2 linked regions of the Homo sapiens genome follow. Each later gene encodes a partner of the first gene's protein in a complex. Each region holds a gene or a part of one and is shown on either strand. Other genes may lie near its edges. The genes, in order: ALKAL1 and LTK. A codon is read from its position in the direction of its gene.

Region 1 (16,149 bases):
ATTGTACTGCCATGATCTCAGCTCGCTGCAACCTCCCTGCCTCGGGCTCCCGTAATTCTCCTGCCTCGGCCTGCCAAGTGCCTGGGATTGCAGGCACGCGCCGCCACACCTGACTGGTTTTTGCATTTTTGGTAGAGACGGGGTTTCGCCGTGTTGACCGGCTGGTCTCCAGCTCCTGACCTCGAGTGATCCGGCCGCCTCGGCCTCCCCAGGTGCTGGGATTGCAGACGGAGTCTCGCTCACTCAATGCTCAATGTTGCCCAGGCTGGAGTGCAGTGGCCTGATCTCGGCTCGCTACAACCTCCACCTCCCAGCCGCCTGCCTTGGCCTTCCAAAGTGCTAAGATTACAGCCTCTGCCCGGCCGCCACCCCGTCTAGGAAGTGAGGAGCGTCTCTGCCTGGCCGCCCATCGTCTGGGATGTGAGGAGCCCCTCTGCCCGGCCGCTCTGTCTGGGAAGTGAGGATCGCCTCTGCCCGGCCGCCACCCCGTCTGGGAAGTGAGGAGCGTCTCTGCCTGGCCGCCCATTGTCTGGAAAGTGAGGAGCGCCTCTGCCCGGCCGCCTCGTCTGGGAAATGAGGCGCTCCTCTACCTGGCCGCCGCTTCTGGGAAGTGAGGAGCGCCTCTGCCCGGCTGCCCCGTCTGGGAAGTGAGGAGCACCTCTGCCCAGCCGCCCCGTCTGGGAGGTGAGGAGCGCCTCTGCCCGGCCGCCCATCGTCTGGGAAGTGAGCAGCGCCTCTGCCCAGCCACCCCATCTGGGATGTGAGGAGTGCCTCTGCCCGGCCGCCACCCCGTCTGGGAACTGAGGAGCCTCTGCCCGGCCACCCCGTCTGAGAAGTGAGGAGCGCCTCTGCCCGGCAGCTGCCCCATCTGGGAATTCAGGAGCGTCTCTGCCCGGCAGCCGCCCCATCTGGGAAGTGGGGAGAGCCTCTGCCCGGCCGCCCCATCTGGGAAGTGGGGAGAGCCTCTGCCCAGCCGCCCCGTCTGGGAAGTGGGGAGAGGCTCTGCCCGGCCGCCCCGTCTGGGAAGTGGGGAGCGCCTCTGCCCGGCCGCCCCGTCTGGGAAGTGGGGAACGCCTCTGCCCGGCTGCCCCGTCTGGGAAGTGAGGAGCGCCTCTGCCCGGCCGCCCTTTGTCTGGGAAGTGAGGAGCGCCTCTGCCCGGCCGCCCCGTCTGGGAAGTGAGGAGCGCCTCTGCCCGGCCGCCCCGTCTGGGAAGTGAGGAGCGCCTCTGCTCGGCCGCTCCGTCTGGGATGTGAGGAATGCCTCTGCCCGGCCGCCCCATCTGGGAGGTGGGCAGCGCTTCTGCCCAGCTGCCCCGTCTGGGAGGTGAGGAGCACCTCTGCCAGGCCGCCCTTCATCTGGGAGGTGAGGAGCGCCTCTGCCCGGCTGTCCTGTCTAGGAAGTGAGCGCCTCTGCCGGGCCGCCCCGTCTGGGAGGTGAGGAGCGTCTCTGCCCGGCCACCCCGTCTGGGAGGTGAGGAGCGTCTCTGCCCGGCCGCCCCGCCTGGGAAGTGAGGAGCACCTCTGCCCAGCCACCCCGTCTGGGAGGAAGTGAGGAGCACCTCTGCCCAGCCGCCCATCTTCTGGGATGTGAGGAGCACCTCTGCCCGACCGCCCCATCTGGGAAATGAGGAGCGCCTCTGCCCGGCCGCCCCGTCTGGGAAGTGAGGAGCGCCTCTGCCCGGCCGCCCCGTCTGGGAAGTGAGGAGCGCCTCTGCCCGGCCGCCCCGTCTGGGAAGTGAGGAGCGCCTCTGCCCGGCCGCCCCGTCTGGGAAGTGAGGAGCGCCTCTGCCCGGCCGCCCCGTCTGGGAAGTGAGGAGCGCCTCTGCCCGGCCGCCCCGTCTGGGAAGTGTACCCAACAGCTCCGAAGAGACAGCGACCATCGAGAACAGGCCATGATGACGATCGCGGTTTTGTCAAAAAGAAATGGGGGAAAATGTGGGGAAAAAAAAGAGAGATCAGATTGTTACTGTGTCTGTGTAGAAAGAAGTAGATATAGGAGACTCCATTTTGTTCTGTACTAAGAAAAATTCTTCTGCCTTGGGATGCTGTTAATCTATAACCTTACCCCCAACCCCGTGCTCTCTGAAACATGTGCTGTGTCAACTCAGGGTTAAATGGATTAAGGGCGGTGCAAGATGTGCTTTGTCAAACAGATGCTTGAAGGCAGCATGCTCGTTAAGAGTCATCACCACTCCCTAATCTCAAGTACCCAGGGACACAAACACTGCAGAAGGCCGCAGGGACGTCTCCCTAGGAAAACCAGAGACCTTTGTTCACGTGTTTATCTGCTGACCTTCTCTCCACTATTATCCTATGACCCTGCCACATCTGCCTCTCCGAGAAACACCCAAGAATGATCAATAAGTACTAAAAAAACAAACAAACAAACAAAAAAAAAAACTGAGTGTCAACTTGATTGGATTGAAGGATACAAAGTATTGATCCTGGGTATGTCTGTGAGGGTGTTGCCAAAAGCGATTAACATTTGAGTCAGTGGGCTGGGGAAGGCAGAACCACTCTTAATCTAGTGGGCACCATCTAATCAGCTGCCAGTGAATATAAAGCAGGCAGAAAAATGTAAAAAGGCTGAGAGAAGAGAGACAGACCCTCTCATATTGTTTTATACTCAGAAAAGAAAAGCGAAACAAAAGGCAGGTAGCCTGGCGCCTAGGAACCAGACCCGAAACCAGGCCTGGGCCTGCCTGACCTAAGCCTGGTGGTTAAAGATCGACCCCTGACCTAACTGGATATGTTATCTATAGATTCCAGATATTGTATGGAAAAGACATTGTGAAACTTCCTGGTTTGTTCTGTTTCACTCTGACCACACAGCGCATGCAGCCCCTGTCACATACCCCCTGCTTGCTCAATCGATCATGACCCTCTCATGCAGACCCACTTAGAGTTGTGAGCCCTTAAAGGGAAGAGGAATTGCTCACTCAGAGAGCTTGGCTCTTGAGACAGGAGTTTTGTCCGAAGCTCCCTGATGAATAAACCACTTCCTTCTTTAACTCGGTGTCTGAGGAGTTTTGTCTGTGGCTCGTCCATCAGCTGCCAGTGAATATAAAGCAGGCAGAAAAATGGAAAAAGGCGAGACTGGCCTAGCCTCCCAGCCTACATCTTTCTCCTATACTGGATGCTTCCTGCCCTCAAACTTTGGACTCCAGAATTTTTCAGTTTTGAGACTCGAACTGGCTCTCCTTGCTCCTCAAGCTTGCAGACAGCCTATTGTGGATCTTGTGATTGTGTAAGTTAATACTTAATAAACTAATATATGTATATATCTCTATCTATCATCTATCTATCTATCATCTATCTATCTATCTGTCTATCTATCTATCATCTCTATCTATCTCCTATTAGTTCTGGCCCTCTAGAGAACTCTGACTAATACAGATTTTGGTACCGGGAGTGGTTCTAGAGGAACATAATATTAAGGATGGAGTTCTTTCGTTGGTTTTGGGGTTTCTGGAGTTGGTTGCTTAATATGATTAGATCTCAAAATGCTAAGGACTCTACTTCTAATAGTATGGAGAACACTGATAGTCCTTGGCATGAACTGTTTAGATAATTATGCAAAATAAATGTATTTGACATTCCTGATTCACTGCTCATGAGAGGCAAGGAGTTTAGTGACTCTATACATAATACCTTTGACCATATGTGGAGACCCAACAAACATAAAGAAGCTGGTTGCTTGCTCCAAAGTTCAGTGGACAAAGTGATGAAAGAAAATGAGGAACTTAGGGATTCTGTCTCCTGACTTCAGAAGCAGATACTGAGCCTGAAATCTACTAAGATTGCCCTGAATGAGAGCCTTATCTCATGTAGAGAAAGAGCTGAAATTGTGGAAAGACAGACACAAGCTCGTATCATGCGAGTGGCTGATCTGCAATGAAAGGTGCGTGCACAGCCTCACCAGGTGTTTACTGTTAAAGTGAGGGCATTGACTGCAAAAGAATGGGACCCTGCAACTTGGAATGAGACGTGTGGGAGGACCCTGACCCAGAGTTTGTAAACTCTGATGAACCTTTTTTTCCAGAAGAAACAGCTTCTCCATCCCCAGTAGTGGCAAAATCCCCTCCCTTACCCATGCTGCCATCAGCCTTTCCACCTTTGTGTGAGAAGATAAACCTTGTCCTGCCCGAGGCAACAGTGATGGCCTCCCCGAAGCAGTTTCCAGGCAAAATAATGTTGATTCTCCTTAGGAGCCAGCCCCAACACTCCTGTTTGTTTCCTGACCTATAACTAAAGTCCTCACGAGTCCCTAGAGGTGAGGTTGAGAGTGTGACCCATGAGGAGGTGTGCTACACTCGAAAAGAACTGCTTAAGTTCTCTAATCTATATAAACAGAAATCTGGAGAACAGGCATGGACATGGACATTAAGGGTATGGGATAATGGTGGAAGGAACATAGAGTTCGATCAGGCTTAATTTATTGATTTGGACCCACTAAGTAGGGACACTGCTTTTAATGTTGCAGCTTGGGGAGTTAAAAAAAGGTTCTAATAGTTTATTTGCTCAGTTAGCTGAAATATGGATTAAAAGATAGCTCACTGAGAGCAAGCTGGAAATGCCTGATCTCCCTTGGTTTAATGTAGAGGAGGGACTCCAAAGGCTTAGGGATATTGGGATGGTGGAGTGGCTTAATTACTTTAGACCTACTCATTCCAGCTGGGAGGGTCCAGAAGATATACCCTTGACCAATGCATTGTGAAATAGATGCGTGAGGGCAGCACTTGCATGTTTGAAGAGCCCTGTAATTGCTCTTTTCTGTATGTCAGATCTAATGGTGGGAACCACAGTCATTCAACTACAAAATTTAAATACAACGGGCATAATTGGATCCCAGGGAGGCAGGGGCCAAGTGGCAACACTCAACTGTCAAAGGCAAGGTGGGCGTAGCTACCATAATGGACAGCAGAGGCAAAGCGGCAATCGGAATAGTCTGACTTGTGTAGAGCTCTGGCATTGGCTAATTAATCACAGTGTTCGTAGAAGTGAAATTGATAGGAAGCCTACTGCATTCCTTCTTAATTTCTATAAGGAGAAAAATTCTAGGTTGAATGGACCAAAGACTAATTTGAATTATAAAAACAGAGAATCATGGCCTCTCAATCAATTTCCAGATTTGAGCCAGTTTTACAAACCCAGAACCCCTTGAATGAAGGGGAGGCTGGGTCCCCTTGAGGAAGGACCCCACTACATCACTGACAATTTAGGCAGTGAATTTTTTCCCCGCCCTTCCCCAAGGAGACCTCCAGCCTTTCACCAGGGTAACTGTGCATTGGGAAAGGGAAATAGGAGACCTCCAGCCTTTTACCAGGGTAACTGTGCACTGGGAAAGGGAAATGATCAGACATTTTGGGGATTACTGGACCCTGACTCTGAGCTGATGTTGATTGCAGCGGACCCAAAATGTCATTGTGGTCCTCCAGTTAAAGTAGGGGCTTATGGAGGTCAGGTAATTAATGGAGCTCTAGCTCAGGTCTGACTTACAGTGGGTCCCCAGACTCATCCTGTGGTCATTTCTCCAGTGCCAGAGTGCATCATTGGCATAGACATACTTAGCACCTGGCAGAACACCCACATTGGCTCCCTAACTGGTAGGGTGAGGGCTATCATGGTGGGAAAGGCCAAATGGAAGCCATTAGAGCTGCCTCTACCTAGAAAAATAGTAAATCAAAAACAATATTGCATACCTGGAGGAACTGAGGAGATTAGTGCCACCATCAAGGAATTGAAAGATGCAGGGGAGGTGATTCCGATTCCCACCACATTCCCATTAAACTCTCCCATTTGGCCTGTGCGGAAGACAGATGGATGTTGGAGAATGACAGTGGATTATTGTGAGCTTAACCAAGTGGTGACTCCAACTGCAGCTACAGTACCAGATGTGGTTTCATTGCTTGAGCAAATTAACACATCTCCTGGTACCTGGTATGCAGACATTGACTTGGCAAATGCCGTTTTCTCCATTCCTGTCCATAAGGCCCACCAGAAGCAATTTGCCTTCAGCTGGCAAGGCCAGCAATATACCTTTACTGTCCTACCTCAGGAGTATATCAACTCTCTAGGTTTGTGTCATAATCTTATTCTTGTGATGGTTAATACTGAGTATCAACTTGATTGGATTGAAGTGAAGAGGTGAGACTGGCCTAGCCTCCCAGCCTACATCTTTCTCCCATGCTGGATGTTTCCTGCCCTTGAACATCGGACTCCAAAGTTCTTCAGTTTTGAGACTTGGACTGGGTCACCTTGTTGCTCAAACTTGCAGACAGCCTGTTGTGGGATCTTGTGATTGTGTAAGTTAATACTTAATAAACTCCTATATATATGTAGGAGTTTATTAAGTATTATATATATATTTACATATATCTCTATATTTATATGTGTGTATATATATGTATATATCTCCTGTTAGTTCTGTCCCTCTAGAGAACCTTAATACAAGTTTATATTACCAATATTACCAATATTTTGGGGGAGATGTAGCAATGGATTTTTCAATTGTGACTTTTAAAATTCTGGTTTTAAAAATGTTTAAGAAAATCAACTATATTAAATATGTGATTGTATTTTGAAATGTTTAATAGGGTTTGTTGGTGTTAAATAAGGAAACTTCACTTGTTTAATTTATTAGCTAAGTTGTAAAGAAAATAAGTGCCTTGAGTTTCAAGGCTTAAAACAGCTTGTAACAGTTACAGTTTTAAAAACTTTGGATTACTTTAAACATTAGTTACTAAGTACCCATTTCTACACAGAAAACCCTTCCTTATATACTAAATAAATTAGCAAGTGTTACTGAGGGAATGCCCACATGAACACTTCAAGTTGCCTCTAAACTAATTAGCAAGAGGCAGGGCAAGCAGCATTTAGTTGGGGCAGTTAGAAAAGTAGTCAAAGATATGCAATGAACAAAGAACAAAAGCAAAGAGTGACTTAGCTATACGTAACCTGTTTATTTATGATAAAAGCACTGTGTTGAGGAACTAGATCCCTGAAGTTAGATGCTCCACAAAGATGAGGATTTTGTTTATTTTACCCACTGTGGTGGCTCCGCTGTGTTTCCACTGCCTGGTCCACAGTGTGCGTTCACATCATTTTTGTTGAATGAATAAAGGTGGGTTTCAAAGGACCACTTGCTTCAGAACTACCCAGAGTCCCTTAAAACGCAGATTTACAGGATCCTCCTGGGGGACTGCGTCCCCAGGGGTTTGGGAACCTGCATTTTTTTTACAGCCTCTCCTTCACATGGTACACAGTGTGAGAACCACTGAAGTTCAACCTCTTCACCTTGCTAGAGAGAAGACTAAGTGTTTTGCTCAGGGCCCCATGGCTAATGACAGCTGAAAGTAGACCCCAAACTGTCAGGCTTGAAAACTTCATTGCTTTGTTTATTTCCTCTAGCTTTCAACGTAGAGGAAGAGGGAAATAATTCAGCTTCCAGGTTTTGCTGTCTTTTGCTCCGGATAGATGGTTGATTAAAAAGTCCATTTGTCATGGTTTCAGTATCACTTATTCTCCAGCATTATTTCATACTGCATTTCCCCATCGTTTTTCGGACTAGTCCCTATTTTTTTATTTTCCAATTAAAATTAATTTTTGAACTGCCTGTCAATGTCTGTGAACTTCTAATGTTTTCTTATTTCACTTCAGTAGAGCTGTGAGAAAGCGTTTATTCCACCTAAGTAGGGCCTTCAGACCCTTAACCTGTTTTTCTAGGAAGACTCTTGTGGGTCTCCCTTGGTGGAAGCCATTCTCTTACACTGCTGTGTTTGCTTAGGAAATACCAGATTCCTATGCGTGCTTAACAGTGAAACGATTGGAAGAAGCAGTCTTCACCTGTGTAACAACTTCCTCAAAAGAGCTTCATCCAAAGGCACGATTTCACAGGGCTCCTGCAAAGCTTGCTTTGCTTCCCAATTTCTTAGGCATGTTGGACATGCCAAGCCTAGATAAACTATTTGAAGGAGTTGAGGTCATTATTCAGGATCTGTGACCCACAAGATTTCTTTTTGTAGAGTAATGTAACGTTGGGCACCGCCTAAGGAGTAATGGAGCCTCAGTTCCCTTAGTTATTCCTGCCTTTTTCCTTTCACCTGTTTGCACTTTGCATATGAGGAGATAATTAGTAGTCAATTGATTAGCGAGCAATTTCAACATTTTTCAATATACTTAACATAAAGCAATAAAGCAGGCGGCTGAAACAACTAAAACAACAACAGTTTACAGAGCGCGGTTTGATCAGAGAGGCGCACTTTAATCAGAACGACTGGCCTTAATTTCATTTTTTAAGTTGTTAACACTAAAACTCTTTATAAGAGTTCCCTAATTTGAAGAAAAATCCAGCCGGCTGCTTTTTTGGGCGCACTGGTCAACCTTGGCGATTTCACCTGGGGAAGCACTGAAACCGGCCACTCCCCCCAGGGAGGCCAGGGGAGCTGGGCGCGTGTCCCCGGTGCCCAGCCCCAGACCTCTTCCGCCCGCCGCTCCCCCACGCGGAAGAGAACGCGGTGCTGCGCCTAGGAGAGCAGGTCGGGCCTCCAGACCTGGGGCAGGGGCGGCTGGCGTGACGGCGTGGCCAGTGTTCCTGAGCGAGCAGGGGCTCGGCAGCAGAGCGCACCCCGCACCTTTGAGCCCAAGGCGCGGAGATCTCCGCTCATCCAGGCCGCACCCCGGCCCTGCTTTTTTCCGTCCGGACCTAGGCGCCGCGGGTTCTACTGACCCCGCCAGCCAGGGGAAGCCGTGACGGACCCCGAGGCTCGGGGGGTGGAGGCGGCGGGAGACAGAGCCCAGGGAGAACCGCCGGGGCGACGCGGCAGTTACCCTACTGGGTCCTCCCGGGGACGGCGACCAGAGAGCGAGCCCGGGGTCCGGATCCGAGGCAGGCGTTGCGCAGGGAGCCCTGAGACCCGCTGAGTCCGAGGCTGGTGCCCGCCCGGCCCAGCGCGGACTTCCGAGGGTCCCGCGCGCTGGGACACGCCCTCATCCTGGGGGACGACCCCGTGGCCCCAGGCACCGCCTCCCGTTCCCGCCCCGCGCCCCGCAGCGCTTAGGCTTCGGCACACTGAGGACCGAGTCCCAGTGCAGCTCCAGCCGACCCCCGGGACGTAGACAAGGGCAGGCGCGCGGTGAAGACTGCGGCCGGCCGCGTAGCCGCGCTGTGGTCCCGCTGGCCTTCTCTTGGGCCGCGCACCCTCCGGACCTGCGTCGGGATCCTCCCGGAGTCTCCCGCTCTCTCCTCCCGGCTTGCGAACATGCGGCCCCTTAAGCCCGGCGCCCCTTTGCCCGCACTCTTCCTGCTGGCGCTGGCTTTGTCCCCGCACGGAGCCCACGGGAGGCCCCGGGGGCGCAGGGGAGCGCGCGTCACGGATAAGGAGCCCAAGCCGTTGCTTTTCCTCCCCGCGGCCGGGGCCGGCCGGACTCCCAGCGGCTCCCGGAGCGCAGGTACGATGTCCCCATCCCGCCCCATCCTTTGCCCTGCGCCTGGGGCTCCGTGGATTCCCCTAGGAGCTGGGCGAGGCACTCGCTTTGGGAAGCCTGAGATTAGTACAGCAGAAAACAGAGCATCTCTGCAGATTCCCAGCTCTCGGAAAGAGGTCGTAAGCGAATTAGATTTACCACGGTTGAGAGTTAAGTAAAGAAATCCGGCTGGCAATGGGATCAGCTTTCTATGTCCCTTCCCAGGTGTAGGAGGACTTTTTGGAAATAAACTGGTAAAGCAGCTCAAAGACATGGGTTTCAGTCCCACCGACCGAGGGGTGGTGGACAGGTTAGGTCCCTGTCAGCACCCCATTTCTGGATCTTCCGGGGTTTTGAGAATTAACTAAGATTGCTGTCCGTAGACACCTGACCGTGCCAGGAATGCCCCTTTCCCCTCCCCTTTCACGCTGGCCGCAGCGAGTGGCTGAGGAAGCGCCAGTTTCAGCAGGCGGCGGCTTATGTTACTGGCACCTTTCCTAGATCATTTTAGAAGGGCAGCCGGCTGCTCCCAAATCAACTTTGGACAGTCAGGTTCCTGCTACTTAGATGCCCGAGGGGAGTGGAAGGAATGAGGGAGGAAAAAGTCGCTGCTCTAGAGGGTCATGAGACATCCACAGGCAGAGAAGTCGTGTGAATACGGGGAACACGGAAAAGCCCCTGGAAAAGGAGGTCCGAGGGGGCGGCCGGGCACTTGGGGCAGCGCTGGAGGGAGGAGGGCAGGACACGCAGGAAAGGAAGGTGGGGACAGAAGCGAGAAGCTCCTCACACGTTTCTGTTCACACCCAGCAAGAGCAGAGCAAGGTGAAGCTGCCGGCGAGGCTGGGACAGAAGGGCCCCTCTGCGGGGACATTTGGTGGCCTCCACCGGGCTTGGGAAGAGGAGAGGGCCTAGGGTGGCCTGGGGATGCCTCGCAGCTAGCGGCTGGCCGTGGGACCACAGCTCCTGATCCCTTCTCCTCAGGCTTTATGGCTAAGAAAGCAAACAAGGGCTTCTTAGTATGATTTTTCTTTCACAATAGTTGTGATATAAATATATACTTATTCACTCCACAAACTTTCTTCGAGTTCCTGTCTGTCACCATGCAGAGGGCGGAGGCCACCCAGAGGAGCAGACAGCAGTGTCTGCACTCTCCCACACACCTGGGTGTGGAAGGAGGCGCTGGTGCACACCTGCACTAAGTGAGCAGGGTGTCCTGCCCTGGGGAGGGGATGGAGAAGGTGGGAGGCTGAGGTGGGCTGCCCAGCTGGTGTGTGGACAACCCGGGCAGAGCCTCTCAGTCCAGCCGGCCACTGGGGAGCCCTCAGGAGGGGAGGGCACAGGGTCAGTGTCCGCAGCACGGCCATGCAGCAATGGTGCACACAGATCATGCACTTTGACTTAAAATTATTGTTAGCCTAAAATATTTATCTCAGAGAATAAAATGTCACTTTGGAATGTGAAAGGACTGGGAGAAAGGCTCTCAAAGTACAGAAACATGGAGGGCACACATTCATTCAGACCTTCTGTTTCATTCAACAGATCTTTTCTCTTTGATTCAGACAGTGAAGACTTACTGAAGTGAGTTACAAGGGATAAAACAATATTTTATTTATTTATTTAGAGACGGAGTTTCGCTCCTGTCTCCCAGGCTGGAGTGCAGTGGCGTGATCTCGGCTCATTGCAACCTCCGCCTCCCGGGTTCAAGCCATTTTCCTGCCTCAGCCTCCCACGTAGCTAGGATTACAGGCGCACCACCACGCCCGGCTAATTTTAATTTTTATTTTTTTGTAGTTTTAGTAGAGATGGGATTTCACCATGTTGCGCTAGGCTGGTCTCGAACTCCTGACCTCAAGTGATCTGCCTGCCTTGGCCTCCCAAAGTGCTGGAATTACAGGCATGAGCCACTATGCCCGGCCATAGTTAAAAGCGGCAACCATCTGAAGTTTTAAACAACAATATAGTCAGACAGAAAGTGCCCTGTGGGCACCCTTAAAGCCATTGCTTTCTGTGACTGTAGTTGTCTAATTTTTTGATTGCTATACTACATTCACAAGGGGAGAAAAGGGTGGCTCATGACATCCGTATCTGAGTCTGTGAATGGAGTACTTGCACATGGATCAGGAACAAACAGGGACATGAGAATATAGAGGACAAGGGCCTATCTGGATGTTCTCACGGGGTGCACTCAGCAGGTGGCAGGGGTTATCGTTCATTCAGGAGGAAAATATCTCGCAGGTCCGGGAGGCCAAGGACTCTCATCTCTGCCAGATGTGCCTGGAATGATGGCCCCATATTTCTGTAGTGACGTAATAAGCACCATCACCCAGGCCTAACGTACCTGTTCTAGGTTCAGAAATCTTTGCTGCCCCTGCACTTGCTCTGTCTGCCTTTTTCTGTAGGCCAGGCAACTTCCCTAAATGCAGATGTGAGCTGGAGGTGGGGGGATCATTTCCAGGTAGAGGGAGTAGTAACCAGGAAACCCTGAGGCAGGAGGGACCAGACAGCATGCCCCGAGGATTGCGGAGAGTGGGGGACTGTGTTAGGTTCCCAGGAACACTCCTGATTCACCGTCCTTGGCCCTCCTTCCTTCTCACAGCCCATTTGTTCGTGCCTGTATCCGTCCTCTCATTTAGCAATTTAACACACAGCTGAGGTCGTTGGGATGGGCAACATTGTTGACCATTGTGCTTGAGGAGCACAATTCAGTTCATAATTCCTGCCTGCGATGTCTCTCGAATCTGGGTCTTCCTTTTTAGTGTCCTTCCCACCACTCTAGTTCAGACCCTCTTGAGAGTTTTACGGTGACCTTCTCGATCATCTCCAACTCTATTAGTGCCCCTGACAGTGTGTCCTACTGGGATAAGAATTCCCAGTAACCTTCGCTCCTGCTCTCTCATTCCTCTTTCCTCCTCCCTTTGTCTTTGGTCACTGCGCCACCAGCAGGATGGCACAAACAAGGGACCATACCTCAAACCCTGCCAAAGGAAAGAAACATCAGAGCACTCACCCACTGAAAGGAAAACAGAATCAGAAGGCTGAGAATAGGGCCGTGGTGGGAGTAGAGAGGAGGTTCAGTTTTTGACAGAAAGGAAATTGGCTTGAGATGTGGGAGGCAGCAGTGTAAGGGTACTGTTAGCAACTATTGATGTATATGATGTTTCTTTTGCTACCTCTGCCTTTTCAAGAGATTTCAGTAAATGTTTACCTTATTTCTACAGGCTTTCTGGAGTCAGATTTGTGTTGTTGTGCTTGCTGTTGCTGTTTTAATATAAAACCTCACTGACATGGAGCTTAAGGAGAGAATGTGAAGGGGTTTTGATGAGGTTATGCTGAACAATGGCAAATCAACGTGCTTAATAAGTAGCATGGGGCTGGTCTCTTCCTGGTCATAAATCTGCTGTGGTTTCTCTTGATTTTCCAGGAAGGTCCTAGCTTCCTTGGAAAGAAAGGCAGATATTCAAGTCCTTTTGTGCCACCTCCTCTTACCTTTCGGCAGCTCTCAGGAGCTACTGTAAGTGCCTCTGTGCCAGTCCCAGGCTTGGTACCCCCTCCTTACAGAGGCCATTCTGCCTGTGCTTAACGCTATTCCTCCCTCTCCTGAAATGCACTTCTCTTACCTCTGCCTGCTGGAATTCTATTCATCCATCTAGGCCCCCTTCCTTTGTACTGTCTTTGCAGTTCGGTTATTTATGCGTTCAGATGCGTCTTAAACCATAAATTCACTTTGCAAATATCCCCAAAGATCTGATGAAAGTTAAAAAAAACTAGACATACTTAAATACTGCAGGGGCTTGCGTAATAGTGGGATTTTATTTGTACAGCCCAAATTCTCTCTATTGCAAGTCTGTGGCTATTATATCTGCCCACTTAGACAGTTATACCTGGTGAGTAACAATTTATTTCACATAAATAATAAAAAATTTTTGCTGCTTTGCATATCACCTGGGAGGGGGGTATGGATGGGTACTTTTTTTTAAAAATCATTTTTTGTTGTATATATTTAAAGTGTGCAACATGATATTTTGTTATATGTAGGCACAAGAAATGATTACTACAGTCAAACAGATGAACATAGCCATCATCTTCCATTTTAATATTTTTATTATGTTATTTGCAGGGTTACTTGAAGCTATTTATTTTACTGAAAACTGTTAGTATGGGGAGAGGTCAAAGTGAAAAGGTTATATATGATTTTTCACCAAGTAGATTTGGCAGGTTATATATATGACCAGACGTCTGTTGGGCATGGGGCTGCTAGCTAGCAGGATCATAAATACTCATTCTGAGATGCCAAAGCTAACTTAGAGGAATGAGTTTCTGCCCATTCACAGTATTTCTTGTAGGAATTGTGGCCTTTCTGCAGGAGCCTATTTATCGAGCTGCTAAGTGAGGAAATTCTGTGCAGAGGTCAACAGAATCACCCACTGTGGGGTTCTCTTTGCCTGAAATGACCCAGTCCCAGGAGACTACTTTCCAATCACATATTGGTTAGGAAAACCTAGGATTAAAACAATTCCTTTTTAATGGCAATTTTTTTCTTTGGCCTTCAGTTTTATTGCTGGAAATGACATTTGAGAGCAGATTTCTAAGATCTTTGTTGCTGTGTAGGAGGATAGAAAAACGTGGCCAGGTGATATTTCCTTCGACTATTTGCCATTGTAGAAAACGTCACAGTAGTGGGTAGTAAGTAGAGTGTCTGGAGTTTAAATATTTCTTATAACTCCATTTATATATCTAACAACATAAACTGCCAGGAAATAATAGCTACAATATTTATATCATACGTGAAAGATGTGTAGTCTTTTACATATTAATAAAATTAAAATTTTATTAAATGTGTTTTACTTGGAGTTATTGTTAGGCTTTTTGATTTGATGATATCGTTCATTGATGATTTCTTTCTCTGTTGAACACAGATAGCGTTTTTTTCTTCCTACAGCACACCTCACACTGAAACTCATATTAGTTTGATATTATATTATTCTATTTGAATGTGAGCCTCTTTAAGTTGAAGACTAGGGGTTACTCGGTTTTTAATATCCCATAGCCTACCAAAGTCATTGTGTAAATTCTTCTTTTAGGAAGAATTACTTTTTTCAGAAGAAATTGAATTTTAAAAAAGAAACTTTGCAGGTTTCTTTAACTTTGAAACTAAAATAATTTGAATTTTAAAATATTTATTTATTGATTTATAGATACATAATTGTGGACATATAGAATTAAAATTTTTATTTTCCCCAAAGCTAAAGCAGACCTATTGTCTTATTTACTTCCTACCATTATGAGGCATAAGCTAACTTTTTGGCATTTGGTTATATTTAGACAATACAGTATTTACTGTCCTTAATACCTTCTAGAGCAGTAGTTGTTAAAATGAGGCTCCTGGGATCATCTGTTTCAGAACCAGCTGAGAGGCAAGTTTCAAATGTAATTCTTGGACTTCACCCTGGATATAATAAATCTGTATGAGTGCAGCTTGTAGATCTGCATTTTAACAAACTCTTTGAGAATTCTCATGTACCTTGAATTTTTGGGACCATCAGAATTTTTTTAACTAAGGAGAGTGAGGAGGAGAAAGGTGGCATATTGGAATCTCTTGGAAAGTTTCTTCCAGATAGAGATGGTTTCTATCTGCCCTCCCCAAACCCAGCCACACTCCTCTGGTTCAGTAGCTCACTGTCTGCCCTCCCTCCATCCTTGCATGTACCCACAGCTCTACAGCTATACGTTCCAGTGTGTTTTGAAAGATAACCTGTGAAAAAAGGCTTCCTTGGTCTACCAGCTTTGGGAACATAACGATTAAGCCCCCTTTTTTAGAATCACTATACAAGCATGCTCTGGTTCGGATATTTGTCCTCTCTGAACCTCATGTTGAAATTCGATCCTCAGTGTTGGAGGTGGAGGCTAATGGGAGGTGTTTGGGTCATGGGGGTGGATCCCTCAGGAACAGTTTAATGCCCTTCCTGGGAGGTGGTGGGAGTGAGTTCTTGCTCTATTACTTTTCTTGAGAGCTAGTTGTTAAAAAGAGCCTGGCCCCTCCCCTGCCCCTTGCTCCTGTCAGGCCACGGGTTCTCTGCACACAGCGGCTCCCCTTCACTTTCCATCATGAGTGGAAGCAGCCTGAGGTTCTCCCCAGCTGCCGATGCCCAATCTTGAGCTTTCCAGTCACCAGAATTATCAGCCAAGTATGCTTTTTTTTCTTTAAAAATTACCCAGCCTCAGGTATTCCTTTATAGCCACACAAAACGGACTATGACAAAGCACTACGAAGTCCTGCAGTAAAGGAAACTTTATACAAATCAGTACTATCCAAATTTTTTTTAAATTAGGCATTTATTTGCATGTTGCATATCTAGGATATGAAGGAGCCCACTTTGGAAACATTGTTTCAGCCAATGCCTATAAACGAGCCCGACTTTAGCCGCTGGGGGACACCAGGAAAAAAAGACTGGGCTGCAGGAAAGCAATGAAGAGAGAAGGAAAGGTGAACAGAGGAGGGCTGAGGGACAGGGCAGGGACATGGCAAGAGAGTTGCTGAGACACGACCACATACTAATTGCTAGTCAAATAGGCACACTGTTATTTGGTGGAAAAATACCTGGAAACAAATTCAGTAAAACCATAAACTACTCATTCAAATTTAAATGCTGTTGTTGAAGAGTGTGCCCCATTCTGAACTTTTTT
Region 2 (15,608 bases), on another chromosome or scaffold:
GCTCAGGCTCGTGCTGCCAACACTGGGTCATGATGCGGTACCTGGGGAGAGGCAGGAGTTCATGCCCACCCATGGTTGTGAAGGACCTCCCTTCCCGGGCAGCACTCAACTCACACAGGCCCTGGGCAGCCCCTAGGAGGGTCCATCCGGCCTCCTCCAACGACGAAGTCCAGCACCTCCTGGTTGGTGCGCCCAGGATAGGGCATGTAGCCCAGTGAGAAGATCTCCCAGAGCAGCACCCCAAAAGACCTGCATCACAAGTGGGGGAACCAAGTGAGGCCCGTCAGGTGTAGCCTCCCCTCACATGAGGTGGCTGGAAAGGACAGGATTAGCCTCAGGGGAGGGGAACAGTGGGGAAGGGGAGGGGAAGGGTGTTATCACCAGGAATCTGTCTTGGATGTGAAGATGCCCTCCAGGAAGGCCTCTGGGGGCATCCACTTGACTGGGAGCAAGGCCCGGTCCCCCCTGCGGTAATAACTGGCCCTACAGGAGGGAGGAGGTGAATGATGAGTTGTTCACCACCAAGGTGCGGGGAAAACCCCCTTGGAGCAAGAGCCTTCCCACCTCCCAAGTCCCGCACCGGTAGATATCTCGTGCCATCCCAAAGTCCCCAATCTTGGCCACTCGGCTGGGTCCAGCGCAGCTCAGCAGGCAGTTCCGGGCGGCAATATCCCTACAGAGTAGGCAAAAAAAATCACTGCCAGAATCTAGAAGTTCTTGCTCTTCCTGATCTATTTCCTTAAAAGCTGTGTGGAAGGGCTGTTCCTTGGGGAGGGAGTTGGGATGGGGGTCCCCTGAGCCAGGACTGCTCCTAACCTGTGGATGAAGTGATTTTCCTCCAGGTAGTGGCAGCCCTGGGCTATGTCCTGGGCCAGTTGCAGCAGGTCCCGCATGACCAGAGGTGATGGCTGGCCCTGGGTCAGGCAGAGGGGGCATCAGTCCATGTAGGTCTCAGACACATGGACAGGGTCTTTAGAGGGGCCTGGGGGGGCTAAGACAAGGGTCTCACCAGGTGTGGCCGACTGTGCCTCAGGAAACTCTTCATGTCCCCTCCAGACATCAGTTCCAGCAGAATGAGGCGAGGGGTGGCCCTGAGGCTGAGCCCCACACACCGCACAATGTTCTGATGGCGAAACTTGCTGAGTGGGGTGGGGGACATATCCCGTTACCAGGAGGGAGACGGAAACCATGTTTTAGGCTCCACAAAGCTGGAGAGGCCCTCTGTGTCCCCTGACTTGCTACCTCAGCCTCAGGGTGAAGAGAAACTGTTCCCGGGCATTCCCCTCCCGCCTTCCAGCCCTGCCCCTGGTCCCAGGTGCACCTGATGATGAGGGCCTCCATGAGGAAATCCAGCTCATCCTGAGGCGAGCAGAGTTCTGGCAGGGTCTGGGGAGGAAAAGGGCACAGTTTCTGAGCTGCCCTGCACGCTTCAGGAGAGGGGGTTAACCCTAGCTCTAGTCATTGTCCTTCCCTTCAGGGTGTTCCGCTCTCCTACCCCCAGCCAGAAGTCCCACTCCTCTCACCTTGATAGCTACCTGCAGGGGACTGGAGTCCCCAGGAAGGCCAATTACCAGTCCCTCATACACCTCCCCAAAGGCACCATGGCCCAGGGCTCTGCAGGAAGACACGTTGGAAGGGAGTGGGCAGGCGGCCTGGAGAAGAGTCCTAGAGAGTCTAGTACCCCCTTTACCTCCCCTGCCCCTGCCATATGCCCAGCTGACCCTATATAGACTCTCTCCATACCATGGCATGTCCCCAGGTAGAAGCCCTGCAAGGGTGGTGCTCACTGGCATAGAGCCAGGGCAAAAAAGAGGGCAGATGCGGGCCAGAGTCAAGGTGGGAGTGCATGATGAGGACTTCCCTGGTCCCTGCAGACGCCCTGGGCGGGAGGCAATCCCTGGGCTCCAAGAGTCATGATTTTTTTTCTTTTTTAAACGAAGTCTCACTCTGTCATGCAGGCTGGAGTGCAATAGCGCGATCTCGGCTCACTGCAACCTCTGCCTCTCGGGTTCAAGTGATTCTCCTGCCTCAGTCTCCCGAGTAGCTGGGACTACAGGCAAGCGCCACAACGCCCAGCTATTTTTTGTGTTTTTAGTAGACACAGGGTTTCACCATGTTGGCCAGGCTGGTCTCGAACCCCTGACCTCAGGTGATCCACCTGCCTTGGCCTCCCAAAGTGCTGAGATTACAGGCGCCAGATCATATTTTTTTTTTATTGAGACAGAGTCTCACTCTGTCGCCCTGGCTGGAGTGCAATGGCGCAATCTCGGCTCACCACAACCTCCGCCTCCCAGGTTCAAGTGATTCTTCTGCCTCAGCCTCCCACGTAGCTGGGATTACAGGCATGCGCCACCATGCCCAGCTAATTTTGTATTTTTAGTAGAGATGGGGTTTCTCCATGTTGGTCAGGCTGGTCTCGAACTCCCGACCTCAGGTGACCTGCCTGCCTCGACCTCCCAAAGTTCTGGGATTACAGGTGTGAGCCACCACGCCCAGCTGAGAGATCATATTCTAAGAACTGGGACGGAGAGGTGACATTGAGCAAGTTACTTCCCCTTCTGGAGCTTCTCAGGGCCTCCCTCTCCCTTACACAAGGGATGTGGGCCAGATTTTTTCTGGGACTTATAATTCACTACAGCAGGGAGAGAATCAGAGGTGGGGATTCAGAGTGCATAGGTTCTCAGAAGGAGGCAGAAGACTTACCTGAGCAGAGTAACATTGGCTGGGGAAACCTCGGTGACACCTGGTGGCAGAGGCCAGGACTGGGCCGGGCCAAGCCCCACCTGGCAATAATAGGGATTGGGGGCTGTCCTGATGGCAGAGGTTCGAAGCTTGCTCAGCTCAAGCTCAGGGCTCGGCAGCCTCATCTCCTGCAGGCCCTGCCACTTCTTCTGCTTCACTGGGGGTGGGAAGAATAACGGCACACCCTCCACCTGCCCATCAACTCTCCCTCCCCCACCTGCCCAGGACACCCCTCCAGATGCTCATTAAGGTAAACGTTTTCCCCAGGCCTCCCCAGCTCCTTCCTATCTTAGAATCCCAGAGGAGTCTACCACGGCTCTGCTGCGGTGAGTGGTCTTGAAGTCAGCCCCGGGACCCCGCAGAAACCCATCCCAGCTCACTGGAGAGGAGCAGCCTTGAATCAACTGTGCCTGCTAGACGCTTCGTACCCAGAATCAGGACCCCACACACCATAAGGAGGCTCAGTGTTGAGGTTGCCACCACAGCCACCATCAGAACCAGAGGGCCTGGGGGCTTGTGCAGGTCTAGGGAGAAAGAGAGACACCTCCAGTGGGAAGGTCTTCTCTGTTCCTTTACCCTCAAGTTTTACCCACGCTTCAAGACTCAGCTCAAGTGTTAATTTTTCCATGATGCCTTCCCCCATTATCCTGGGCAAAAGCAACCTCTCCCTCTTGAACACCCCTAAAGCACTTTATACCTCCCACAACAATCGTCACTTGAGATATACATTTACATAGCTATATCTAAACATCCTCCCACACTGGACGACAGGCCTCTGAAAGGCACTGTGCACCGATGAATCTCCAATCCCCTGCCCAGCACCCACCACAGGGCCTGGCACACAGCAAATCTCTATACCATCTTTCCCAGTGGCCTACTGCTCCTCCCAGTCTGTGACCCCAGGAGTCCAGACCTTGGGCAAAGGTAGGACATACCCATGCAGGTGACGTTATCCACAGCTAGCTCCATGCCTTCTGGGCACAGGCATTCAGCCAGCTGGAGCTCTGCCTGCCATTGGCAGTCTCTCAAAGGGCAGTGACTGCAGTTGAGGTGCCTTCGGATCTCTACCTCTCCGTGGTTCTCGGTGACTGTGAGTAAAAGAACTGATATGATATGGTGTGGTAGGGCTGGGATATAGTAAATACATGCCTTTGGCTGGGTACAGTGGCACACGCCTATAATCATTGCACTTTGGGAGGCCGTGGTGAGCGGATCACCGGAGGTCAGAAGTTCAAGACCAGCCTGGCCAACCCCGCCTCTACTAAAAATACAAAATTAGCCGGGTGTGGTGGCGCACGCCTGCAATCCCAGCTACTCCAGCACTGAGGCTGCAGAATCACTTGAACCCGGGAGGCGGAGGTTGCAGTGACCCAAGATCGCACCACTGCACTCCAGCCTGGGTGACAGAGCGAGACTCTGTCTCAAAAATAAAAATAAATAAATAAATAAATAAATAAATAAATAAATAAATACATGCCTTTTCCAGCCACATGGTTAATTCTAGCCCAGGACTTTAGAGCAAAGAGCAGCACCAAGCTTACAAGGGTGGTGAGAGAAGCTGGGGGACTTCTGTCAAGCCTGCACACTCCCAGGTATTTGAAGCGAATTCATAGCAAGGGGGTACTTGAAAAGCACGCAGCATGCCCTGCATTGCCATCCAGCACGACTGGCAGCCCACTTTCCTTTTTTTTAAGACAGAGTTTTGCTCTTGTCGCCCAGGCTGGAGTGCAATGGCATGATGACAGCCCACTTTTCAAATGACCCTATGCTATGCAAGAATCCTGTGCTATGCAAGGTTATTCACAGTGCAGGTGGCTCTTCAGTGCAGTGCAGGAGTGGGCTCAGGGACTGCGGAAGAAGTCCAGGCCAGGCTCAGAGGTGGGGTTGGGGCCAATACCTGCCAGAGGCTGCAGGAAGAGCTCGCTGCTGGGGTGTATGAAGGATACTCCATCTTCCCCATCAGCCCAGAGGTTGTCAGTCTCTGAAGCGTCGCCCCCTGGAAGTGGAGAGTGATGGAGAGTTTGACTACAAAAATGGGGGATGGGGGAGAAGCTGGAATCTCCCGGTGGAAATCCCAGTGTGGCCCTCTCTTCTCCAGCATCATGATGCAAATGCTGTCTGTTCACAAGTGGGAGTGAAGGAGGTGAGGAGGGGGTAATCAGCTGGAGCCTGAAGGCCTCGCTGAGGCTGGCTGGGATGCCTCCTGCCTGCCTGAGCCCCTCCTGTCCCATGTCCTCACAGTCCCTTTCTGTGAGAATGTAGATCATGTGTGTATGTATGAGCAGTACAGCCCAGACAGGCACAAAGGCATTTACACTAGTTATTTGATCAAAACACAGATGACTGGGACTCTCCCTTACAGTTTCTGATTCAGTATGTTAGAGAAGGGCTGAGAATTCGCATTTCTTTTTAAAAATTAATTTTTAATTAAAAATAAAAATTCAGGGCCAGGTGTGGTGGCTCACGCCTGTAATCCCAGCACTTTGGGAGGCCGACATGGGCGGATTACGAGGTCAGGAGTCCGAGACTAGCCTGACCAACATGGTGAAACCCCATCTCTACTAAAAATACAAAAATTAGCCGGGCATGGTGGCGCATGCCTATAATCCCAGCTACTCAGGAGGCTGAGGCAGGAGAATTGCTTGAACCCGGGAGGCGGAGGTTGCAGTGAGCTGAGATTTGTACTACTGCACTCCAGCCTGGGCAACAGAGCCAGACTCCATCTAAAAAAAAAATTCATATATTTATTGTATACAGCATGATGTTTTGAAATATGTACACACTGTGCAATGGCTAATGCAAACCAATATATACACCACCTCACATGCTTATTTTCTGTGGTAAGAACACCTATAATCTACGCTCTTACCAATTTTCTTTTCTTTTTTTTTGAGACAGAGTCTTGCTCTGTCACCCAGGCTGGAGTGCAGTGGCACGATCTTGGCTCACTGCAACCTCCGCCTCCCGGGTTCAAGCGATTTTCCTGTCTCAGCTTCCCGAGTAGCTGGGACTACAGGCATATGCCACCACGCCCGGCTAATTTTTGTATTTTTAGTACAGATGGGGGTTTCACCATATTGGCCAGGCTGGCCTCAAACTCCTGACCTCAAGATCCACCCGCCTCCGCCGCCCAAAGTGTTGAGATTACAGGCGTGAGCCACCGCGCCCCGCCTCTCTTAGCGATTTTCAAGAATACATCGTCATTAACTACAGTCACCATGTAGTACAGTAGATTCTGGAAGGTATTCCTCCTATTTAACTGCCATTTTGCATTGTTTTGACCAGCATCTCCCCAACCTTCCCCCAACTCCCAGGATAATTTCCATTGTTTTTTTTTTAATCTTTGAGACAGAATTTCCCTCTTGTCGCCCAGGCTGAAGTGCAATGGAGTGATCTCGGCTCACTGCAACCTCCGCCTCCCAGGTTCAAGCAATTCTCCTGCCTCAGCCTCCAGAGTAGCTGGGATTACAGGCTCCCGCCACCACGCCCGGCTAATTTTTGTATTTTTAGTACAGACAGGGTTTCACAGGTTGGCCAGACTGGTCTCGAACTGGTGACCTCAGGTGATCCACCTGCCTTGGCCTCCCAGAGTGCTAGAATTACAGGCGTGAGCCACCAGGCCCAGCTGATAATGTGCATTTCGAACAACTTAGGTTGTGGGGATATTACCTGTTCCTGGACCACACTTTGAGAACCACTGACTTAACCCAATCCTGCCTTTCTGCCCCTTTGCTCAGCTTGCTCACTCGGCCAGCTCTAAGTTCTGAAGACTGCTGCAGAACAAGGCAGGGACCTGCTGTGATGGGAAAGATCCTGGATTAAACGGAAATCTAGGGAGTCCTGTCTGCATGCTGATTTGCAGTGTATTTGACCTCCTTTTCTAAGAGCTCCTGCTTTTTGTTTGGAGCTGCTGAGCAGGGCTTAATGCCTCTCCCACACCTATCCTCCCGAGGGCTCCGGCCTGTACTTAGGTTCTAACATCACCTCACCCTCGGGCCTGCTCAGCTGCCCTCTCCAACGGTGCACCTACCCCTGTAGCCGCCGCCGCCTCCGCCCGCAGTGCAGGCCCCGCCGCCGCCCCCGAAGCCGCCGGCCGCGGCCCAGCCAAGGGTCGCCCAAGCCTCGGAGCAGCCCTGGCCGCCCTCCGCCCCCTCCTGCAGTGAGCGGCCGGCCTGCGGAGAGGGAGCCCGCGACGTCCAGCCGCCCCCACCACCTGCAGAGCGACAGCAGGAAGGTTGGCAGCCACACGGGGAGCACGCCCGCCTCTCCCCGCGGCCCGCGCCCTCACCTGCCGCCCCGCCTCTCCCGCCGCTCCCGGGCGCCTCCGAGCGGTTCTCCAGTTTCTCGGGGGAGGCCTGAGTCCGGCCTCGGTCCCGCGGCCTCAGGTAGGCCCGACCGCCGCCTCCGGCCGCCACCAGCAACGGTTCCAGCTCGCCAGCGCGCACCTGTGGGGCCAGCGGCGTGTTCCAGGAAGCGCCCTCCAGCTGTCCAGGGGCACTGCCACTGGGAGAGGGCTCCCGCCCAGGGGGCCTGGATAAGGGCAGGGGCCCCCAGCCCAGCCCAGGCCAGCCCAGCCCAGCGCAGGGATAGGGGGACCCCAAGGGACGGACGGAGAGCCGGTGCGTGAGCGCCCCTGGGGAGAGGATTGGGACCCCAACGCTGAGCGCCGAAGGGAGCACGTACCCGGAAAACGTAGGTGGCGCCCCCGCCACCCCCGCCACCTCCCGCCCAGCGCCGCGACCCCGGGACCCCTTCGCTCCCATCCATCGCCGCGTGCTCTTCAACGGCTCGAGACTCCCCGAGGCAGACGAGCTGGCTCTCCGGGCTACCCTGCGGGCAGCGGGGGAGGGAATCGGCGGGGCCCGGGAGCCTCCCCTCGCTGTGCTGGTGACCCGGCACCGAGGAAAGCACGCTCCCCCGGCCCCCAGGCAGCCCTCGCCCCCGGCGCCGGCGCCGCCCCATCCCCACTGGCTGCGCTCACTCCGGGACAGGCGTCCTCTCCCTGCTGCCCCACCAGGATGTACAGCGACTCCCCGAGACCGAGGGAGAAGATTGCTGAGACGAAGACGCCATGCGCCCGCGACAGGTGGTTCTTGGCGCCTTTGCCGCCCGCGGCTCCGTAGGCTGAGATCCTGCGGGGAACGGACGGTGAGTCCCCGGCCTTCGGTGCTCAGGCCGGCCGCTCCGGGCAGAAGTTGGCGACAGAGGAGGCTCCAGAATTATTTTTTATCTGAGGGACTTGGAGGCTGCAATCGACTCTGACGGGATGGGAAGGGTAGGTTTGCACACCGAAAAATCAGATATTACACTTATTTCAGGAGGGTTCGTGGAAATGTGGGGAGGCTCAAGCACCCCTTGGCGCCGCCCTGGTTGGGGGCCTTCCGCTCGGTGTAAGAGGTTCCGGGTAAGGGCTAACTCGGTGGCGACTACTGCCACCTTGAAGGGCACTCAAGGTGGACCTCCCCGCGGAATAGTCCAAGACGCAAGTCGGTGCGCACGTGGACTTCGTTACCCTGAGGGTGAAACCTCCAACTAGCAGGTCACTGTCCACCCTACCTCCGCCGTGCACTTACAGATACTGGCCAGGGCCCGGCACGCGCCACAGCTGCACGCCTCTCAGCTGCCCGGCGGCCCCCACGGTCACCACCACGCTGGTCCCCGCGTACGCCCCGTCACATTGTGTCTGTGTGGGCCCATGCCGGCCGCTGGCCCCGCAGGTAGAAAACAGCCAAGACCCCTCGGTGCCTGAGAGCAAGGAGCGAGGCAAGGGTCGTCGAGCCCCTGGCTGGGCCAGAGGGGTCTGGTATGGTGAGCGAAAGAGGAAGGAGGCGTCTAAAGCTCACCCGGAGAATTCAGCGGGGAGGCTGGCTCCAAGATACTAGGCGGGGCGCTGACTTTCGGGTCCCGGGGGCTGGGACTTGCCAGCGGCAGGGGCGAGGACCGCAGAAAAGTCTCCTGGGACCCCGGGCTAGAGCAGAGAATGGCGCCTGAAAGGTGTTGGGAGAAGGCGCAGGACGTTAAGGCGGGTGGAAATAGGATATGAAAGAAAGAGAGAACCCCGCAACAGCTGCCCTTGCGGTCGCGGCCACACCCGTCACCCGGCCCAGCCGCGCTCTCAGCCTGGAAGCCACTACCCGACTCCGGTCGCAGAAGCCCCGCGGGTGCGCGCTGATAGGTCTGCCAGTTTCTCTCCTCGAGCGCCTTTCCCAGTGAATAACTTAGGGGCCGCAATGAATTTGGTCCTGCAGCCTCCCCAATGCTTTCCTCAACTTAGATTGGTGGCCCCGCCCCAAGGCGGTGCTGAGACCCCAAAGAATGTTCCTCCTTCCCAAGCTGCGTGATCCAGACTCTGGGATTCGCACGCACTTGGCGCTTCTCGGCCCGCACTCCAGAAGCACGGACCGGAGAAATTTGGCTGTGAGAGTTCGAGGCCTCTGGAGGAACCACTGACACCTGGCCTGTTGACCGGCCACCCCCAAGCCTAGGAAAGTGCCTCAGGCTGGACGGTCCCCTGACCGCCAGATAGCACTTACCCGCGGCTCCGAACCACACCAGCAGCTGTCCCCAGCAGCCCATCCCTGTTGGGTCCACCCGGCAACAAAAGCCCTTGCGGTCGCGGCCACACCCCTGTCAACCTAAAGTTGACAGCTCATTTTGCCACGGCAGCCCTGGCCACCACTTACAGGGGTGTGCTGCCGCTGGCGAGACACTCCCCGGACCTAAAGCTGGTCTGGCCACGCCCACCTCAGACCCCAGGACGCCAGAGGAGGAAAGGGAGGGGCGTGTGGGCAGCGAGGTCCCTACGCTTCCGGGAGGAGCCTTAAGGAGTCCCCACCCAGGGGTTCTAGTTTCCAGCCGTCAGATGTGCCGCAGCCTGCTGGGAGCTCCGGTAGGTTTGAGGCCGGAGAGGAGGTGCCCCACGCTTAAAGTGGGAGCCACACCTCGGACACCAGGTGGGGGCTTCCAGGTTCCTGAGGACAGGAGCAGTGGAGTGTGCACTTCATTTGTGGCAGTGGTGGTGGTGGTGAGTGTGTGGCATGCGTCACCACACGTGGGAAGTACTCTAAACTGCTCCAAGTAAGGCCTCATTACCTGCCATTACTTGTGCCTTTTAGTGGTGCCTTTGTGACTGCAAGGCTGAACCTCATTGCTACTCCCAGAAACCTGGATCTCTGTGTTTGCCTCATATAATTCCGTTGCCTGTGTTACCCCTGTGCACAGCCTCTCACTGTGATGGGGTGAAAGACTGGACCAGACGTTAGAAGATCCGAGTGTTTTTAGTAGCACTGAAGGTCAATAGATGATAGGTAGGTAGACCGATCGATCGATTGATCTTGAGCACTAGTACTGGCACCTCTGGTCAATGGGTGATGTAGCACAGGCCACAACTGCCCTGAGAGTTTCCCCACCACCTGCAAAATCATATGAAGGGAAATTGCTCTGTAAGGTACCCTACAAATGTGGGAGCCACTCCCTTCAGGTAGTTTTGTGTCTTGAGTCTTCGATCATTTGCTTAAATGATCATTTGCCGGGTGCGGTGGTTCATGCCTGTAATCCTAGCACTTTGGGAGGCTGAGGCGGGCAGATCACCTGAGGTCAGGAGTTCGAGACTAGCTAGACCATCATGGCAAAATCCCGTCTCTACTAAAAATACAAAATCAGACACACGTGGTAGCGCACGCCTGTAATCCCAGCTACTCTGGAGGCTGAGGCAGGAGAATGGCTTGAACCTGGGAGGCAGAGGTTGCAGAGACGAGATCGCACCATTGCACTCCAGCCTGGGCAACAAGAGCAAAGCCCCATCTCAAAAAAAAAAAAAAAAAAAAAATCCTAACTTGAAAGTCTGAGACCTATGTTTAATACAAAATACTTCAAAAGAGAAGTTATAGTAGTTAGCTACTTGGTAAAGTCTGAGTATAATTCAAGGTGTAAACAGAACAGTGATTTTGTAAAAAGTCTGGTCTCAGCCAGGCGTGGTGGCTTACACCTGTAATCCCAGCACTTTGGGAGGCCAAGGGGACGGTGGGGGTGGGGTGGATCACAAGGTCAGGAGTTCAAGACCAGCCTGGCTAAGATGGTGAAACCCCGTCTCTACTAAAAATACAAAAATTAGCCGTGCGTGGTGGCAGGTGCCTGTAATCCCAGCTACTTGGGAGGCTGAGGCAGAGAATTGCTTGAACCTGGAAGGCAGAGGTTGCAGTGAGCCGAGATTGCACCACTACACTCCAGCCTGGGTGACAGAGTGAGACTCCATCTCAAAAAAAACAAAAAACAAAAAAACCCTGGTCTCTATGCCCTACTTAACACTAGATATCACACTATGAGATCACAGAATTTACCTTGCAAAGTCTCTTTAAGCCACTGCTCTTCAAATTGTGGTTGTGTGGTTTGTTCTGAACATCAGCATCAGTATTACCTGGGAACTTGTTAGAAATGCAGATTCTTGGGTTTCACCCCAGATGTACTGAATCAGCAGCTTCTGGTGGTAGGACCCAGTGATCTGTTTTAAAATATCCTCCAGATGATTTTTGTCACAAAGTTTGAGAATCATTGGTATTTGCTGATACAGTAGTTGCTTAATAAAACCTATTGGGGCCACATGCTGTGGCTCACACTTATAATCCCAGCACTTTAGGAGGCTGAGGTGGGCGGATTGCCTGAGCTTAGGAGTCTGAGACCACCCTGGGCAACATGGCAAAACACCGCTTCTAATAAAAATACAAAAAACTAGCCCGGTGTGGTGGTGCATGCCTGTAGCCCCTGCTACTCGGGAGGCTGAGGCATGAGAATCACTTGAGCCTCAGAAACGGAGGTTGCAGTGAGCCAAGATCATGCCACTACACTCTGGCTTGGGCTACAGAGTAAGACTCTGTCTCAAAAAAAAAAAAGAAAAAAAGGCTGGGCCCAGTGGCTCATGCCTGTAATACCAGCACTTTTGAAGGCTGAGGCGGGCGGATCATGAGGTCAGGAGTTCGAGTTCAAGACCAGCCTGGCCAACATGGCAAAACCCCATCTCTACTAAAAATACAAAAATTAGCCAGGCGTGGTGGCACGCGCCTGTAATCCCAGCTACTTGGGAGGCTGAGGCAGGAGAATGGCTTGAACTAGGGAGGGGGAGGTTGTGGTGAGCTGAGATTGCCCCACTGCACTCCAGCCTGGGCAACAGAGCAAGACTTCGTGTCAAAAAAAAAAAAAAAAAAACCCAAAAAAACCTATTGGATAATTCTGTGTTCAGCAGCTCCATTTATGAAGACTGGGTTCTCTCTACCTACTGACAGGGCTAGGCCTTGGCACACTGCTCTGACTCTGGTTACTTGCAAACACAATAAGTAATCCACACAGCAAAAGACAGTCTAAGAAAGCCTAAAGTTTAGAATTCAGACCAAAGAACAATGTAGAAACTACCAAAATAGGCCAAGTGTAGCGGCTCATGCCTGTAATCTTAGCACTTTGGGAGTCTGAGGTGGGTGGATTGCTTGAGCTCAGGAATTCAAGACCAACCTGGGCAACATGGTGAAACTCCGTCTCTACAAATACAAAAAATTAGCCAGGCGTGGTGGCACTTGCCTGTGGTCCCAGCCACTCAGGAGGCTGAGGTGGGAGAATGGCTTGAGCCCAGGAGGTCGAGGCTGCAGTGAGCTATGATCACGCCACTGCACTCCAGCCTGGGCAACAGAGCAAGACCCTGTCTCAGAAATAGATAGATAGATAGATAGATAGATAGATAGATAGATAGATAGACAGACCGACCGACCGACAGACAGACAGACATGGGGTCTCACTATGTTGGCTAGGCTGGAATTGAATTCCTGGAATCAAGTGATCATCCTGCCTCAGCCTCCCAAGTAGTTGGGACTACAGGTGTGTACCACTGTGCCTGGCAGGCCCCACATTCTTGTTGTCTCCAGATGTGGACAAAGTTTTTACCTCCCACTTATGATTCTTCCCCATCTCTCTCACAGCAGTCCTGCTCCTCACCTGGGATAACCCACCCCCAGATACTAACCCTGAACTAACATGGCTGAAATCAGTCCAGATCAAATTTCCAGGAGATAAAAAACATTTATTTTAATGCACAACTATAGCATTCATATGCCTCAGCCCAGGGCAGGGGTTGGGAGTTAGGTAAGAAGGGATGCATTTAGTTTGCCCTGTCCCCAAAGAGCGGGTAAATAGCTAAGCCACTCTTCACTCCCAGTACAGACCTTCAGAAGCCCCAGATATCAGGATGTAATGGTAGGGCTCACTGCTCTAAAACAGCTCAAACAACCTGCTCCCAGGAAGGCAAGCCTTCTGCTCCTTGGTCTCCTGCCTACCATTAGGACACAATGTTCTTCGTCTGGCCAGACATCTGTTGAAAGGCTGGATACAGGACAACGTACCCATCTTTCCATCTATATCAACTATCCTAGGTCTCTGATACCCCATTTTGGAGCACTGTTGAAGTCAGTCTCTGGAGGTAGTGCTGACGCAGAGGGGGCAACTGAGAATAGAGCTCAAAGCCCTCTGGGAGCGTGGAATTGGGAAGCTTATAGTGCAGGAGGTGCTGCCGGAGACCCTGCAGAAAGGAAAGAAAACTTATGAAGTGGGTAATGAGATCCTGTTGTGGTCTCTGTCCCCCAAGATCCTCTAATATCCCACCCTCCTAATGGCCCTGACCCTACCTCATCTGCCAGCAGCCATGTTTTCTGCAGCATACTCCTGCGGGCAGCTTTGACCTCATCCTAGAAGCAGAACAGGGAGAGGTGGCACTGAGCCGAGGGCTGGTACCCACCACTGGCCTTGCTTGACACTTACCTCTTCCCCAGCTGGCCCAGAGGCAGCTCAATTGCTAGCTCCCTTCCTTCCTCTGAAGATGGAGATGTAACTTACTGAGCTCTGTGGGTCCTGAGAGAAGATGAAGCTATTGACATGAGCCACAGCCACAGCATAGAGCACGGGGCACCAACGTGGGCGGAGCGCACCAGTAACCAGGGTCCGGAAGTAGAGCTGAAGGAGGGCCAGGTTGTCTTCAGGAGGCACTGTGTAACACTCCAGGGACACAGGCAACTGTGACAGGGGAAATGACGTGCTGAGGGGGAGGGTAGGAATGTATATACATACATAAGGTGTGTGGATAACGATCACATGAAACCAAATCATGAGGGCAGAGATCAGGTCCTAGACAAACATCTGTCCTTCTAGCACAAGGATCAGGGTTAAAGACTACAGAGCAGATGTTGGGGAAAACTGGGAACTGAGAAGCAGCCATTAAAAAGCATGAAATTGGCCATGTGTAGTGGGCCACGCCTGTAATCTCAGCACTTGGGAGGCTGAGGCAGGCGGATCACACGAAATTAGGAATTCAAGACCAGCCTGGCCAACATGGTGAAACCCCATCTCTACCGAAAATACAAAAATTAGCTGGACATGGTGGTGGGTGCTTGTAGTCCCAGCTACTTGGGAGGCTGAAGCAGGGGAGTCGCTTGAACCCAGGGGCGGAGGTTGCAGTGAGCCGAGCGCGCCACTGCACTCCAGCCTGGGCAACAGAGCAAGACTCCGTCTCAAAAAAAAAAAAAAATTAGCCAGGCATGGTGCTGTGTGCCTGTAATCCCAGCTACTCAGGAGGTTGAGGCAGGAGAATCGCTTGAACCTGGGAGCTAGAGGTTGCAGTGAACCAAGATCATCAGGCCACTGCACTCTAGCCTGAGCAACAGAGCGAGACTCTGTCTCAAAAACAAAAACAAAAACCCAAAATCTTAAAAACAAAAAACAAAATACAATAACTTCTTTTTTTAATAGAGTCTCGTTCTATTTCCAAGTCTGGAATGCAGTGGTGTGATCATAGCTCACTGGCAGCCTCAACCTCCTGAGCTCAAGTGATCCTCCTGCCTCAGGCTCCTGAGTAACTGGGTCTACGGGCAAATCACCAGGTCTGGCTAATTTTCCAATAATTTTTTGTAGAGATGGTGTCTAGCTTTCTTGCCCAAGCTGGTCAGAAACTCTTGGCCTCAAGCAATCCTCCCACCTTGGCCTCCCAAAATGTTGGATTACAGGCATGAGCCACCTCACGCAGCCATAACACAGTAACTCTTTTTTATTTTTCTTTTTTGAGATGGAGTTTCACTCTTGTTGCCCAGGCTGGAGTGCAGTGGTATGATCTCGGCTCATGGCAACCTCTGCCTCCTGGGTTCAAGCGATTCTCCTGCCTCAGCCTCCGGAGTAGCTGGGATTACAGGCATGCACCACGACACCCGGCTAATTTTTTGTATTTTTTTTTAGTAGAGACGGTTTCACCATGTTGGCCAGGCTGGTCTCAAACTCTTGACCTCAAATGATCCGCCCACCTCGGCCTCCCAAAGTGCTGGGATTACAGGCATGAGCCACCGCACCTGGCAAACATAGTAACTCTTTACAGCTTATAAATTTAAGTCCTTAGCCTAATATTTGAGGCCCTCTCAGACTTCACTTCTTATTTTTAGCCTTAAGTTCCCAACAGAAATCTCTCCTCCCTCCTTCTGCCCTTTGTCATGCTCCTTTTGCTTATGTTATTCTGTTAGGAATCTCCTGCCTTTCTACCTCCTCACCAATTCAAATTCTACCCAACCTACAGTGCCTGGGTCAATCCCCACTTCTTCCACAAAGCCCAATTTGATCTTTCCCTTCTCTGAATCCTGATACCACCTAGCATCTGAATAATTCACAACTATGTAGGTTTTCAGTAAATCTCTTCTTATCTAGATTGTAGCACTGATAAGCAAGGAGCTATGCCTTATTAATAGTAATGAATACCCACTATATGCCAGACACCAGGTTAAACCCTTTCCTTTTTTCTTTTTTGAGACAGGGTCTTGCTCTGTCACTGGGCTGGGGTGCAGTGGCGCGAT

Evidence for each region.
Region 2: the proteins of ALKAL1 (region 1) and LTK are in contact, whole or in part, in a crystal structure (PDB 7NX0), measured with the Homo sapiens proteins. Residues at the interface, in NP_997296.1 of Homo sapiens: His93, Arg96, Leu97, Asn100, Thr101, Arg102, Glu103, Arg112, Arg115, Leu116, Arg119, Leu120, Ser123; in NP_002335.2 of Homo sapiens: Tyr124 (codon at 7,864), His140 (codon at 7,816), Phe143 (codon at 7,807), Ala250 (codon at 7,097), Ser251 (codon at 7,094), Pro252 (codon at 7,091), Glu253 (codon at 7,088), Leu359, Phe360, Leu361, Gln362, Leu364, Ala365, Val366, Glu368, Glu372, Glu374, Arg376.

Annotation. Positions count from the first base shown.
Region 1 is NC_000008.11:52,558,368-52,574,516, reverse strand, and holds the start of ALKAL1 (ALK and LTK ligand 1 precursor), read left to right. Parts: upstream 1-9,086; 5' UTR 9,087-9,260; coding exon 9,261-9,450; intron 9,451-16,149. UniProt on the Homo sapiens protein: Cytokine that acts as a physiological ligand for receptor tyrosine kinase LTK, leading to its activation. Monomeric ALKAL1 binds to LTK, leading to LTK homodimerization and activation.
Region 2 is NC_000015.10:41,504,392-41,519,999, forward strand, and holds the start of LTK (leukocyte tyrosine kinase receptor isoform 1 precursor), read right to left. Parts: upstream 9,437-15,608; 5' UTR 9,319-9,436; coding exon 9,276-9,318; intron 8,730-9,275; coding exon 8,586-8,729; intron 8,488-8,585; coding exon 8,316-8,487; intron 7,875-8,315; coding exon 7,724-7,874; intron 7,573-7,723; coding exon 7,426-7,572; intron 7,188-7,425; coding exon 7,031-7,187; intron 7,018-7,030; exon of another isoform or gene 6,956-7,017; coding exon 6,773-6,955; intron 4,739-6,772; coding exon 4,640-4,738; intron 3,846-4,639; coding exon of another isoform or gene 3,831-3,845; coding exon 3,678-3,830; intron 3,267-3,677; coding exon 3,171-3,266; coding exon of another isoform or gene 3,123-3,170; intron 3,073-3,122; exon of another isoform or gene 3,054-3,072; intron 2,900-3,053; coding exon 2,704-2,899; intron 1,615-2,703; coding exon 1,524-1,614; intron 1,387-1,523; coding exon 1,322-1,386; intron 1,140-1,321; coding exon 1,010-1,139; intron 915-1,009; coding exon 817-914; intron 674-816; coding exon 581-673; intron 484-580; coding exon 382-483; and 4 more. Other genes in the region: RPAP1 (RNA polymerase II-associated protein 1), read right to left, coding at 13,151-13,300, 13,407-13,466, 13,615-13,791. UniProt on the Homo sapiens protein: Receptor with a tyrosine-protein kinase activity. Following activation by ALKAL1 or ALKAL2 ligands at the cell surface, transduces an extracellular signal into an intracellular response.